Regions from separate parts of the Homo sapiens genome. Here regions 2 and 3 are each reported to be linked to region 1. Evidence: microRNA targets listed by miRTarBase, many of them from high-throughput screens and not tested one by one. Region 1 holds a microRNA gene; each other region holds the end of a gene's coding sequence.

Region 1 (5,000 bases):
CACAAGGTCAAGAGATCAAGACCATCCTGGCCAACATGGTGAAACCCTGTCTCTACTAAAAATACAAAAATTAGCTGGGTGTGGTGGTGCGTGTCTGTAGTCCTAGCTACTCGGGAGGCTGAGGCAGGAAAATTGCTTGAACCCGGGAGGTGAGGTTGCCATGAGCCGAGATCACACCACTGCACTTCAACCTGGTGACAGAGAGAGACTGTCTCAAAGAAAAATAAAGGGCCGGGCACGGTGGCTCATGCCTGTAATCCCAGCACTTTGGGAGGCTGAGGCGGGCGGATCACGAGGTCAGGAGATAGAGACCATCCTGGCTAACACAGTGAAACCCCATCTCTACTAAAAATACAAAAAATTAGCCAGATGTGGTGGTGGGTGCCTGTGGTCCCAGCACTCGGGAGGCTGAGGTAGGAGAATGGCGTGAACCTGGGAGGTGGAGCTTGCAGTGAGCCAAGATCGCGCCACTGCACTCCAGCCTGGGCAACAGAGCAAGACTCCGTCTCAAAAAAAAAAAAAAAATACAAAAATTAGCTGGGTGCAGTAGTGCACGGCTGTTTTTGCTCAACATTATACTTGTGAGATTTTTTCCAGGTTTTTTTGTTTGTTCATTTTTTGTTTTTGTAGAGACAGGGTCTAGCTGTGTTACCTAGGCTAGAGTACAGTGGTACAATCATAGCTTACTGTAGCCTCAAACTCCTGGGCTCAAAGGATCCTTCTGCCTTAGACTCCCAAGTAGCTGGGTCTACAGGCACATGTCAACATGCCTGGCTAACTTTTTCTTATTTTTATAGAGACAGGTTTTGCTTTGTTACCCAGGCTGGTCTCGAACATCTAACTTCAAGCAATCCTCCTGCCATGGTCTCCCAAAGTGTTGGGATTATAGGTGTGAGCCACTGCCTCTTCCAGGTTCTTATATGTAACTAACTCATTTGTTTTAATTGCTGTATTATATTCCCCCATTTGGATGAACCACAAAATGGATAAACCACCATTTGTCTGTCCATTCTAGTGTGTATGGACCTGCAAGTTGTTTTCAGATTTTGGCTTTTAGGAATAATGTTGTGAACATTTTGGTACCTGCCTTCTGGTAAGCATATGTACACATTACTAATGCCGAAATCCACAGGAGTAAAATTGCTTAATCATGAGACACATATGCATTCACTGATAACTGACGAGGTTGAGTGCTTTTTCATATGTTTATCAGCCATTTGGGTATCTTCCTTTGTGAAGTGCCTACTCAAGTTTTTTACCCATTTTAAATTGGTTCATTTCCTAGTATAAAGGTTCCCCAAAAAATTAAAAATAGAACTACCATATGATCCAGGAATCCTACTTTTGGACATTTATCCAAAAGAACTGAAATTAGGATCTCAAAGATACTAGCACTGCCATGTTCATTGCAGCATTATTCACAGTACCCACCTAAATGTCCATCGATGGATGGATGGATCTAAAATTATTGGCTGGGCACGGTGGCTCACGCCTGTAAACCCAGCACTTTGGGAGGCCAAGGTGGGAGGATCACCTGGGGTCAGGAGCTTCTGACCAGCCTGGCCATCGTAATGAAACCCCGTCTCTACTAAAAATACAAACATTAGCTGGGCATATTGGTGGGTGCCTATAATCCCAGTTACTTGGGAGGCTGAGGCAGGAGAATCGTTTGAACCCAGGAGGCAGAGATTGCTGTGAGCCAAGATTGTGCCATTGCACTCCAGCCTGGGTGACAGAGAGAGATTCTATCTCAAAATATATATATATATGTGTGTGTATATATGTGTGTGTATATATGTATACACAACAGGGAGATAGCCTTAAAAAGGTAGGAAATCAGCTGGTCATGGTGGCTAATGCCTGTAATCCCAGTACTTTGAGAGGCCGAGGCAGGTGGATCACAAGGTCAGGAGTTTGAGACCAGCCTGGCACACATAGTGAAACCCTGTCTCTACTAAAAATACAAAAATTAGCCAGGCTCTCGTGGACTTCAGCTCTTGTGGACTTCAACACGTTGATTATGGGTTTCTAGCCTCCAGAAGTGTGAGATAATAAATTTCTGGGTTTTTTTGTTTTTTGGGGTTTTTTTTTGAGATGGAGTCTCCCTCTGTCACCCAGGCTGGAGTGCAGTGGCACAATCTCGCTCGGCTCACTGCAACCTCTGCCTCCCAGGTTCAAGCGATTCTCGTGTCTCAGCCTTCCAAGTAGCTGGGACTACAGGCGCATGCCACCATGCCTGACTAATTTTTGTATTTTTAGTAGAGACGGGATTTCACCATGTTTCCCAGGCTAGTCTCAAACTCCTGACTTCAAGTGATTTGACGACCTCGGCCTCCCGAAGTCCTGGGATTACAGGCGCGAGCCACCGCACCCAGCCTGGAGTTTGCTTTTAAAGCCAATTTTTATAAAGTATAAAAGTATAACATACATGCAGAAAAACTGGTCAATTACGAGGATGTAGCTAGTGAATTTTCATGGAGTGAGCACCTCCCTTATTTTGAATTTATTTCCCCCCACTTATTGTTAACAAACAGTGGCTTGTCATTTACAGGCCTGTGTCCTTCCCAAGCTAGACCATTGAGGCCAGAAAGATGTGTCGTATTTATTTTTGTATCTACTCCCTCCCCAGTTTCTAGCACAGTTCCTTTATATAGTAGCCCACAGGAAGTGCTTGCTGAATTAGAATGCAGAAGGTTGGATGGGAATTTCACAGTGAATCAGGGTCACCTTGAGCTTGCATTGAATGGAAGTTCCATATAAGACTAAGTACTTTGCTCCAGAGTGGTAGCTTTTGGTCTTTCTGTGCATCTGGATTCAGATTCGCTGCCCTGTCTCTCTCTCTCTCTCTCTCTCTCTCTCTCTCTCTCTCTCTCTCTCTCTCTCTCTCTCTATATATATATATATATATATATATATATATATAATTTTTTTTTTTTTTCCCATGGACATTTTTGGGGAAGGGCTTCTGGAAAACATAGCCCAAGGCAGGGATTAAAGAGCTAATGCTGGCCGGGCGCGGTGCCTCACGCCTGTAATCCCAGCACTTTGGGTGGCCGAGGCAGGTGGATCACGAGGTCAGGAGATCGAGACCATCCTGACTAACACTGTGAAACCCTGTCTTTACTAAAGATGCAAAAAATTAGCCAGGCGTGGTGGCGGGCGCCTATAGTCCCAGCTACTCGGGAGGCTGAGGGAGGAGAATCGCTTGAACCCAGGAGGTGGAGGTTGCAGTGAGCCGAGATCGCGCCACTGCACTCCAGCCTGGGCGGCAGAGTGAGACTCCATCTCAAATAAATAAATAAATAAATGAAAAATAAAGAGCTGACACTTTGGGAGGTGCAATCCCAGGGCAGTGAAGGAGCAATGGCAAGTGGCAGAGGAGAGATCAAAGTGACCACCCAGCTCATTCCCTTGCTGGATGAGACTTCACAGCGAGCTACAGAGACACGGTGGGTCGCTCAGCAAGCATGCTTGCCTGGCACATGGACTTTTCCAGAACTTACACAAGAAGAAAATACACCTCAGAGCCATCCGTGGAGGGAAGAGTGGGGGGAGATTCATCTGACCTGTTCTTTTCATATCCTATTTTCCACGGTGGCATTTCATACAAGCCCAGAAGTGGAGGTACGGCGTGACCTGGATGAGGCATCATCGAGAGAGACAAAGAAGGAGGTGGTCGAGGGAATCTGAGAAGGCGCACAAGGTTTGTGTCCAATACAGTCCACACCTTGCGCTACTCAGGTCTGCTCGTGCCCTCCCATGATATCAGCTCTCCTACTTCAATGTGGGAATCTCCGTTTTCCTTGGAGAACAAAAACATCCTCATTCCTTCCCTGAGCAGGAAGGTACAAATCCCATCAGTGACAGAAGCCATTTCCTGGTGCTGGCCCACTGGGGTTACCAGGAAGAATAAAGCAAGAAGGTTGTGAAACAAGGTCATCTGCTGCTGCTGTGGCCGGTCCTGGTGTGCTCATTGTTACTCATCATTTCCCTCCTGCACTACCCACCCTAGACCCTCTCCACTCTCCGCCAGCACTCTGGCTGGTCTGTGATGTTTGCGCTGAGTGGTCTGCATGTGTTGTTGGCCTTGCTCATTATCAGCCGTTACCAATCATGGAAATGTTAAGAGATACCGGTGCTAGGCACAGTGGCTCATGCCTGTAATCCCAGCACTTTGGGAGGCCAAGGTGGAAAGATCACCTGAGGTCAGGGGTTCAAGACCAGCCTCACTAACATGGTGAAACCCCATCTCTACTAAAAATACAAAAATTAGCTGGGCGTGGTGACGGGTGCCTATAGTCCCAGCTACTCGGGAGGCTGAGACAGGAGAATCACTTGAACCTGGGAGGCGGAGGTTGCAGAAAGCCGAGATAGCGCCATTGCACTCCAGCCTGGGCAACAAGAGTGAAACTCTGTCTCAAAAAATAAATAAATAAATAAAAATAAGAGATATCCCAAGGAGTCCTCTGGGTTTTATTCCAGACATTCTCCTCCCATTTCCAAATGGGCCACTCACCTAATTCCTCATGGCAATTAGGATCAGTGACCCCTGGCGGTAGAGTCACTCCCCTGGCAGTAGAGTCACTCCCCTGGCAGTAGAGTCACTCCCCTCTTTGTTGGTCACTGGCATGAGGAGCCGTAGGTGGCCAAGTGGTTGTGGCAGTGTCCAGATCAGTGGAATCTTTGTTTCACATTCCTCCCTTACCCCAGGACTAGATCCTCTAACCCAGCTGATCCCAAGTGTGTGAGGATGGGAAGCACACACCTTGCAAAGGGCAACCATGCGTGATGGTGAGCAGGGCCACTCCTGGACCTGTCTGCTGTAGCTGTGGGGGACATGGCACCAGATATCAGTTGTCAGCTCAAGGCATCCTGGAGGACAGAGGCTCAAACCTGAGGGGTATTTCTCCCTCGGTGTCCCCGCTAAGCCAGTAGGCCATTCCATTGTTTTGTCAGGCTCGCTGCCCCCTAGTGCAGCTGGGTTCCTGTGATTCCAGTGA
Region 2 (5,225 bases), not on the chromosome of region 1:
AGTGTCCCTCTTCCACCTCTTATTCTAAACTGTCGAGCCTTTGTTGAGGAGATGTTTGAGGCTGTGCGAGTGGACGACCCTGATGACCTGGGTGAAAGAATTAAAGAGAGACCTGCCTTGAATGCTCAAGGTGGCATCTATGTCATTAACCCAGAGATGGGACGGAGTAATTCACCAGGAGGAGATTCAGATGATGGCTCTCTGAATGAACAAGGCCAGGAAATAGCAGTTCAGGTTTCTGTCCACCTTCAGTCAGAAACCAAAAGTATTGATACAGAGTCTCAAGGCAGCAGTCATTTCAGTCCACCTGATGATATAGGATCTGCAGAATCTAACTGTAACTACAAAGATGGGGCATATGAAAACTGTCAGCTGTAACCTACAATGCTGTAACCCAGTACCTACAAAATCAGCTCGCTCTCAGAAAAGGAACCTGTTTCTTAGAAGAAGTAACATTTTTGCCAAAAGATGACTGGGGTTTTCCGTTTGTTAATATTAAGCACATCAGAACGTGAATTGCCAAAGTCTTCATTAGAAGGCAGCATTTTTCCTCTCTGATACTTTTCAGTCATTTTCCTTAGAGCTTTATTAAATTATGCATGCTAAGATTTAAAGGAGCCCCAGATAAACATGATGGGGAAAAGCACTGAACTAAGAGTCCCATGGTTTCTCTTCTGGTCACAGTTCTTCCATTGGTTGGATCTGATACTTATCTTGGGACTTCAGTTTTTCCGTCAATAAGATGAGGGATTAGGTGAGATCTGAAGTTGTTTCTAGCTCTATAGCTTCTTAACCCATCACCTTTAAATTACCAGAATCTTCACTCATCTCTAAGTAAACCTTTCCCGGGACTTTTACTCGCTTCTTTTGGAAAGGATTAAGCTGAGATCTAAATTTCCACACCAATGTCATAATGCACAGAGGTTTTTGAAAAACATCTGAGTGTTTTTCAGATGTTTTGCCATGTGGAGCATATAATGATATGTGCAAGATTGAATCTTTTCAATGTAGCACATGTCTGTAGGGTTATACAGATGTCAGAGAGCTAACTGCTCTGTAAACTACTTTCCATGAGTAAATTGGTCCTTGGTGGGGGTGTATCATATTTTTAACTTACTGAGATATCATTTTAGTTCATTGAGGTTGGCAGGGATTGCCTAACTGATCTTCCAAAGTGAGCAGTTTATTTCTAAGGTATAACGTCTTTGATGCTTTTAGAATAAGAACAGTGTCAAATCATCTGTCTTCTGGAAAATCATGGATTTTCATATTTCTGTTAACAGAATTTCTCAGGCTTTCCCTTTTTAAAAGTATTGGACTCTACAAATAGGTTCTATATTTGGGATCTCATCCTAGGAGAAAACCCAAAACTGGATTCCTCTTAAGACCTCTGTCAACCCTCCTGCCCTTTGTGGTCTTAGGTATGGTGCTATAGGTTGCATGCGTCTTTATCTTGTTTGTTTGGTTAATATTTTGTTGTTGAGGTTTTTATTTTTGTTTACTTCAGATACATAATTCTGAGCTATGGCTGCTTTTGTAGCCTTTCCAAGAAGCACTAACCTGAAATAAGATTAGATAATTGTGAGGGTGTGTTACTATATTAAAATACACACACAACTGATCTAGACATCAAGAGGAAGAAAAATGATGGATGATGCCACCTGCTTCAACTGTATATAATAAACACTTATGATGACATTTCTTGCCTGGCTGAGATCTGATATAATGGAATTGTAAATACTCTTCAGAACAATTTCTTCAGCTACAGGAAGCGTGGTGCCATATAATTTTAAGAACTTGGCAGTGGAGCTCCATTTGGGGCTTCACGTTTCTTCATATGACTTCTGATTATTGAAGCATTACTTCAGCTAGAGGCTCCTGAGGGAAATGTTCAGAGGAGGTTTTATCAGGATTTTAATTTAAGGTTTCAAACAGGGGAAGACAGGAAATTCAAAGCGTGACGGGATAAAACTCATGCCTCCCTTTGTCCAGGCTTATCAGAAGTAATACATCTGCTCTGAATAGCATGAATGAATCAATGTGCAGTTTTATCAGATGGCATCATGGATAAAGATGATAATGCTGCCTTTTCTGTCTCTCAGGCTGTTTCCATGGAAACCTCTAGAGCCAAATAAAAGCTAACCAATCATTTAGCCAAAGCTTGCCTTGGCTCATAGACTGGTATTTCTTTAAGGAAAATTGTTTTTATATATTTGACTATAAGAGCAAAGGCTCTTGAACATATCCTAGATTATGGAACACTTTTTCCCTTCCCTTTTCTCTGGAAAAATTAAATTTTTTTTCTGTCCACTGAGACTGGAGTGCAGTGGCAAGATCATAGCTCACTGCAGCCTCCAACTCCTGGGGTCAAGCGATCGTCCTGCTTCAGCCTCCCAAGCAGCTAGGACTACAGGTGTGCACCACCTTTCCTGGCTAATTTTTTTTTATTTTTTGTAGAGATGGGGGTCTCACTTTGTTGCCCAGGCTGACCTTGTACTTGTGGCTTCAAATGATCCTCCTGCCTTACCTCCCAAAGTGTTGAGATTACAGGCATGAGCCACTGTGCCTGGCCAAAAAACATTTTAAATCCCTTGTCTGGGGGTCAGTCCTCTAAACATCCCTCAGATTTCAGATAGTACTTTCAACCCTGTCCTAACATAGCAGGTTTGCAGTAATCTTTTAGAATATAGCTTGTCAAATTAGAGAATGGTTTTACCCCACATGTTCTCATAGGAGACATTATTATTTAGAACCCTAAGGTAGACATGTTTAAAATCAAAGTCCTAAGAAACAGAACTTTGGAAAAATGGAGGAAATGTTTTTAAAGTCTGTAAGTTTGCACGATACTGTATAGTAACTAAATGCATGCTACTCCGTTGTATCCTAGTTATTTTAGAAACAGAGGTGGCCTAATTTGGTGGCCAAAGTAACTGGTTTACTTTGAGTGTACCAGCTTATGGTGCCATTGATGAGGAATTAAAGTAGGTCAAAATTTAATTGGAGTTGGTATTACTTCGTAAAGCTAGTTTTCAAGAGGAAGAAAACCACACTTACTAATGTTTTCTGTATCTAATCAAATACTCTTCATATATAATTAAGCCTCATGTTATCTTTTTTTTAAATCAACCTTTTGAACTTCAACTACAGTCTAAAAGTCTTGATGGTAACTATAGTGTAATTATCTTTTTGTCTCACTGGATTTTATAGTTAGTGGAAAATGCCTTTACAAAATGTATTTAAAATAGCTGTCATCTCATTTGTAAATTTTGTCGTGTATTGTGATATAGTGAACCTTATTGTCCTTATGAAATGGTAGCTTTGTGAAATACATTCACCAAAAATCAAAATTTGAACATCTTTATGATTCCTTACCAGCTGAAGCCAGATAGACAGGTATTAATTGAGCTGATGCCCCACTTGAGTTTATAGACTGTTTGATAACTGCCTGTCCTCCAAATTGTGTATGTATATGTTACGATGGTTTAATTCTTGAGTCAGGGCCAGCACGCATTTATATTTTCTACCAATTACCTTGATAGAAATATCTTAGAAATTGCTGACCTGGAACGGTTGTGAGAAGACTCCTGGCTTCTTTCTTGCCTCACTTAACAAATATTTTAAGGTCAAAGCAATATCTGTGCACGGCTTTCCTTTTGCTCCTCCAGACAAGTGAGGCTGTTGGTATAGTCCTCTTCACCCTCTGCATGTAGCTTCACCCTAGATCAGACTTTTGTCTCTTGGGTCCCAGATGGCACAGGAGCACTGCATGCTTGTTTTCTAGAGCCCAGCCAGTCATGGGTGCTAGCCTAGTCTCCACACACCAGCAAGTAGAACCCAAGTGTATTGTATAAATATTTCCTGAGTACCAGTAAGAGAATGCATTCTTTTCTCATCTAGGCCAGGAATGTTGAAAATGCTCAGCCTTACATAGAAACTCCTAGATTTTCACTAACGCATTTCACAAAAGTAAATAAGTATTTCATATAATTCAGAGGATGTTTAAATTGTCAGCATTTTAATAAATACTTGCATTATAATTTTGTCTCTTTTTTAAAGAAAGTCATACTTGAATATAATTTATTAAACGTTCAATGGAGTATATAGTCTATTTGAAATTTTCTATAGTGTATGTTTCATTTGTATGTTTGACGAAATTTGTATGTTTGATGGAACTTGACGTTAATGATTTTAAATGGGTAATTTTTTGGGGAGAGGGTAGTCTCACTCTGTCGCCCAGGCCAGAGTATGATGGCATGATCATGGCTCACTGCAGTCTCAACCTGGGCTCAGCAGTTCTGCCTCAGCCTCCTGAGTAGCTAGGATTATAGGTGCACGCTAACGCACGTGGCTAATTTTATGTGTGTGTGTGTGTGTAGAGATGGGTCTCGTTATGTTGCCCAGACTGGTTTCTATCTCCTGATCTCAAGTAATCCTCCTGCCTGGACCTCCCGAAATGCTGGGATTACAATCATGAGCCACAGCCCCCAGCATAGGAGTAAATTTGAATTCAACTTGGATTCTAGTGTGGCTGGAATCCACTTTAACTTTACAAATATTTACACCTAAGCACTGTGTATGTTTTCAGTGCTATGAGCTACACTGAGATGGGTATCCTGCCCACAACGGGCCTGCAGATACCAGACTATCCTCCCTGGGCCCAAATACAGCAGTTTACTCTTCTGAAGTAAAGCATTTTTGGCAAAGGCAAGAGCTTGAGAAAAAGAGATGAGAAGATTTGGTACATTTTTAAAGAGCTTGTGATTATAGTGTGTAGTTTATGGTGAGATTTGGCGGGCAGGAGGTTTAGCTCTGGTAGAAGCAAAAGTCTGCAGTCCCATCAGGGTGAAGAGTGGTGATGGTTAACAGGCATGGAAAAGCACAAGGTGTTAGGAGAACGCAAAGGCAACAGATGGGAGGTGTGACTCATTACTTAAATGCCACAGACTCCTTAGAATGAAAATCTAGCCTTTATATCCCTATGGCAAAAGATTGCTGGACTTTAAATCCTGATTTCACCCCTAGCCTTGTAACCATGGACAAGGGCTTCAGCCTTTCTCGGCTTCAGTAAAATAGAATTGATAATGCCTACCTCACAGAATTAACACAAGGATTAAATATAGCAACCGATAAGCAAACACTGATAGCTCTGATCTACCACACTGTAAGGGGCTAGTCATGAGCCGGCGTCAGCTTTGTTAGTAGCCTTGTCCAACTGATGACTATAT
Region 3 (5,225 bases), not on the chromosome of region 1:
TACAAACTAGCCAACTTACACCCATTGGTGCCACACCACTTAATTTCATCCTTTGGGTGAAATGACCCCTACACAAAAGCCTTTAAAACTATACTTCCCTTCATGCTTAACAGTTGGGACCTGGACATGATAACTACCCCTCTGTGGTCTCCACAGTGACCTCCACAACCACATCAGCGCCAGTCCCATTGTCCAACAATCCATGCTTCACTCTGCACTATTCCTTCATCATGACACCACATCCTACTTTCTTCAACTTGCCAGATAATACATGTGAAACAGTAACAGAACATGTCATCCAAGAGATAAAACTCCAACAATGCTGGGCCTGCCAGCAGGCGTCCCAACCTGGGTAACCACTCGTACAACTGATTTCCACACTCTTGGAGGTATGTGATATCCATACTACTAACCAGTCGCCATCCTCTCTGGTCACCCTCCAGCTCCTTTACTTCCCCAGGCACCCTCAACCTCATCAGGTTCTTCCTCTGAATTTTTCCTTCACAGTCCCACCTTTCCTGCCCTCTGTCAACGATTGATATTATATAAAGCCATTGAAAGTACAAGGGCCTCACACGTATGCACTGGTGAATGCCCTTCCCATAAAAGGGGATACCAGGCCACCTTTTTGTATATTATAAATTGGGCCTCATCACAATCTTTGGTATAACAGGCATAAGTCTAGATCTTTTCAGTTCTGTAGCAGACTTCATTCTTAGAGCTGCCAGCCAAACAACGTCACAATTCCTGGCAGACCATATGTACCAAACAGCCCAAGATTTAGAAGCCCTTAATGAGATAAAGCTCTGTAGCTGTCATGGTAGTTGATAAAATACTGCATTAGACTAACTAGTGGCATCTCAAGGTGGCCCTCTGAAGGGAACCTCTGGCTGTGTGAAGGTCAGTAAAAACAGGAAAGCTCTCCAGAATCGTTCAGTAGATAACAAACCAAAACAGTCAACGAAGTTACTAAGTTACTAAAATGTGGCAAGAGTTTCTGAATCCCTATTTCTTCTCCTGACTGCTTCCTTCTGCCTGGATTAACATTATCTGGCACCACATTATCTTTCAGGGAGCTATTATAATTGCTGGCCTAATTTTATTGGGTCAACTTTGCATATTTGGCCTCTCTCAAATGCAAGTTTATTTATAGGAAACCTAGGAGTTTGCTGTGCTAACCCAAACATCAGGGGTGAATTGTGAAGACTGGAGGAAACTTGGTGTTTGACTTAGTGCAAGCCACCTATAAGCATCTCTTGCCTATGTCCAGTCTCCCTCACAATCCTGATGAGGTTCACTTACTGCTCCACAAGTGCATATGCCCTCCACCACCTCTTTTAAACTGTGTGCTGGCAGGACATCCCCTTTTATAAACTGCCTGAACATTGACTATTCTGTTTTGGATCTTTTCTTGGACAGCCCTCCCACCCCGTAATCATCTTTCTTTGATCATTCCAAAGGACTACCGTCAGGAGTTTGACATACAAACCTAACCTTGGAAGGAGTTTCGACATTCAAACCTAACCTTGGAAGGAGTTTCCCCACATCATAGTAGAGGTGCTGTAATAGGCATATAGATTGGGAGGGAAAAACATTTTTTTTTTTTTTTGCAGATGACAAGATTGTCTACACAGAAAATCCCAAGCAATCAATAGAACAGCTACTTAAACCAATACTAAGTTTAGCAAGATCATAGGACACAAGGTCAACATAAAACAATCAACTATATTGAAAAAGAACAATTGGAAATTGAAATTTGAAAAACAGTACTAATTTAGAACCCTAAAAAAGGAATATGTAGGTATAAATCTAATAAAGTGTGTGCAGAATCTATATGTTAAAACTACAAATTACTGATGTAATAAGGGAGTCCTAAATAGGCAGATACTGTGTGTATGGTTTAGAACATTCTCAGTATTGCTAAAATGTCAGTTGTCCCCAAACTCATCTATATATTCATTGCAATCTCAATAAAAATCCCAGCAAATTATTTTTACAGATGACAAAGCTGATTCTGGAAATTATGGCAAGACAAATTTGATAGCCAAAATAAAATAATGAGTTGGAAGACTCACAGTATCTGGTTTCAAGACATTATATACAGATACAAAAGTCAAGATGTGCAATATTTGGCAAAATGATAGACACATAAATCAATGAAACTGCACTGAGGCCAGAAAAAGACCCATACATGTATGGTTAATGGATTCACAAAGGTGCCATGGCAATACTGAAAGAATTGGATTCTCATATGCAAATAGTGGACCTCCCTTATATAAAGATTCACATCTTATATAAATACTAACTCAAATATATCATAGACCTAAATATAAAGCCTGAAAACATAAAATTTGTGATAAAAAAGTGGGAGAAAATCTTTGTGACCTTGGATTAGGCAGAGTTCTTATATTTGAAACCAAAAGCACAATCCATCAAAGACAAAAAAGGAACTTCATTAAAAAAAATTTCTTGTGTGAAAAATACTGTTAATGGAATAAAAACACAAGCCACATAATGGTATACAATATTTGCAAAACACATAACTGACAAAGATATCTATCCAGAACATATAAAGAACTCTCAAAAATCAATAAGAAACAATCCAGGTTTTAAAAAAATGGACAAAAGATTTGAACATAGTTCACAAAAGAAAATAGGCAAATGGATAGCAAACGAGCAGTGGAGATGCTCAATGGCCATTAGGGAAGTGTAAATTAAAACCAAAATGAAATCCCGCTATAACCCTTTGAAATCCTAACAACAAAATAAAAATGAAACCAAACCCTGACATACCAATTGTCAGTGAAGTTAAGGAACTGGGACTTTCATACACTGGTGGTGGGAATGTAAAATGGTACAGTTATTTTAGAAAAGTCTGTCAGTTTTTCATAGATAAGTATACTGTTACCATACAACCCAGCAATTCCACTCCTAATATTTACTAAGACAATGTGGACACACAAAACTGTTTGCAAATGTTGACAGCAGCTTTCTTCATAATCACTGAAAACTGAAAACCCAAGTATCCCACCAGTGATAAATGGATAAACAAACTGTGGAACATCCATATGACAGACTACTACTCAGCAATAAAAGAAATGACTTCTGTACTGATATATGCAACAAGACAGATGAGTCTCAGAAGCATTAAGTGAAAGGTGCGACTCCAAAGGAAACATACTCTAGAATTCCATTTATATGACATTCTGGAAATGATATAAACTATACAGACAGAAAATGAGTCAGTTGACAAGGGCTGGTGGTGGGGAGAGGAGCTGACTAAACAGAACAAGCAAGTTTCAGGGCAGGGGGTACTAGAACTATAGACTATCTTGATTGTGATGGTGGTGTTCACATAACAGCACTTGCCAAAATGCATGATAGAGTCAGTTTCACTGTATATAAATTATTCCCTAATTAAAAAAAGAATGTTAGCTTATATGATTTTCATGGATGCCTTTTATCTCATTGAAGAATTTTTTCATCATGAGTGGATGCTAAATTTTGTCAAATGTTTTCTCTGAATCTACTGAGATGATCATACATTTGATCATAAGAATCCAGATATAAGAGTACATACTAAATCCATAGGAAGCTCAGGAACAGACCTAATTAATTTATGGTATAGAAATCATAATACTTGGCACTGGAGGTGGGATTGACTGGAAATGGGCACAAGAAAACTTTTTGGTTTAATAGACATATTGTATACATTGATCTTGGTGATGATTACATTTGTCAAAATTCAGAAAGCCATGAACTTGAGACTTGTGCATGTTACTGCATGCAGATTACACCTCAATAAAGTACTGTTAACATACAAAACTTCTAGTTGCTAGCCAGAAACTGATTTCTGAACCCACTAACAAGCTGCAACCTTCAGTTTGATAAACACTTGTCCACGAGATCTGCAAAAATGGGAAAATCAGGCCATATGACTAACTTATATATCCTCCAAGCCTTGCAGAATTCTTCTGAGTACAATTTTAGAGAAACTTCTAGAGATAAATAAAAATGTCAAATATTACTGAATTTCAAATATGACAGTAATTTCAAATACTACTGAAAAATTACAACGTATTAGGCACTGAAAAGGCAGAGTAGATTTGGCAGTCAACAAAGTCCCTGCCCTCTTGGATCTTATATTCTAGTGGAACAGAATTCAGCATTTCTATCTTAGTACTTCTGATTTACTCCAGATCAGACTCATCCTTCCTGATCCTCTTGTCTGCATGTATCAGCTAATGGTCAATGTTCTGAATGCAGTCCATATGTCTCCACTCTTGTGAGGCTTCTCTGCTGTGTGGTCTCCCAATCACTTGGCTGAACTACTGACTCTATAAAACAAATGTTTTGTCTATGATAGCTCTGATTATTAAAATATTTCAGCACCCATCTGAGATAGTAAAACATATTTTATCGAGTTTTCCTGTGTGAATCCTCTGATGAAGGAAAGTCCTTGTCACCCTCATCATCAGCATGGACTCGCTGATGAATGATAAGACTTGAGCTCCAACTGAAGCCCTTCCCACACTCCTCACATTTGTATGGTTTTTCTCCGGTGTGAACTCTTTGATGGGCTTGAAGGTATGAGCTCCAGCTGAAGACTTTCCCACATTCCTCACATTTGTATGGTCTCTCTCCTGTGTGGACCCTCTGGTGGGCTTGAAGGTAGGATCTCTGTCTGAAGCGCTTACCACACACATCACATCGGTATGGTTTTTCTCCTGTGTGGACTCCACGATGTGCCAGAAAATTGGAGGCCCGACAGAAGCCCTTCCCACACTCCTCACATTGATAGGGTTTCTCTCCAGTGTGGCACCTCTGATGGGCTTGAAGCTGTGAACCTACACTGAAGCCCTTCCCACACTCTGCACACTGATATGGTTTCTCTCCAGTGTGAACTCTCTGATGCACCTGAAGGCTGGAGAACTGACTGAAGGCCTTACCACACCTCTCGCATTTATAGGGTTTCTCTCCTGTGTGGATTCTACAGTGTACATTAAGATCTGAGCTCCGACTGAAGCCCTTCCCACATGTACCACATTTGTAGGGTTTCTCTCCAGTGTGGCCTCTTTGATGGGCCAGAAGATTTGAGGCCTGGCTGAAGCCCTTGCCACACTCCTCACATTTATAGGGTTTTTCCCCTGTATGGACTCTAAAATGAATGTTAAAATCTGAGCTACGACTGAAGCCCTTACCACATGCATCACACTGATACGGTT

Evidence for each region. The annotated mature microRNA hsa-miR-3200-5p reads AAUCUGAGAAGGCGCACAAGGU and lies in region 1 at 3,684-3,705, shown strand. An mRNA with a match to its seed (bases 2 to 7 or 8) in the 3' UTR can be bound and repressed. Matches are read on the target gene's strand: a 7mer-m8 pairs with bases 2 to 8, a 7mer-A1 pairs with bases 2 to 7 and ends in A, and an 8mer does both.
Region 2: the mRNA of MFAP3 is a reported target of hsa-miR-3200-5p. Seed matches in the 3' UTR shown: 7mer-A1 at 1,504-1,510, 7mer-m8 at 2,621-2,627 and 7mer-A1 at 2,629-2,635.
Region 3: miRTarBase lists ZNF45 as a target of hsa-miR-3200-5p. Seed matches in the 3' UTR shown: 7mer-m8 at 4,395-4,401.

What each region holds. Positions count from the first base shown.
Region 1 is chr22:30,727,886-30,732,885 of GRCh38, forward strand. MIR3200 (microRNA 3200) reads left to right here and starts at 3,672; the gene lies at 3,672-3,756. All of the region lies in intron 1 of OSBP2 (oxysterol binding protein 2), which reads left to right.
Region 2 is chr5:154,053,336-154,058,560 of GRCh38, forward strand. It overlaps MFAP3 (microfibril associated protein 3), which reads left to right. Exons shown (of 3, transcript NM_005927.5): 3 at 1-4,115. The coding sequence ends at 378. Among named protein-coding and RNA genes, the nearest start is that of MFAP3, 17 kb to the left of the region's middle.
Region 3 is chr19:43,908,971-43,914,195 of GRCh38, forward strand. It overlaps ZNF45 (zinc finger protein 45), which reads right to left. Exons shown (of 10, transcript NM_003425.4): 10 at 3,654-5,225. The coding sequence ends at 4,417. The region is part of intron 1 of ZNF45-AS1 (ZNF45 antisense RNA 1); the gene reads left to right. Among named protein-coding and RNA genes, the nearest start is that of ZNF45-AS1, 9.7 kb to the left of the region's middle.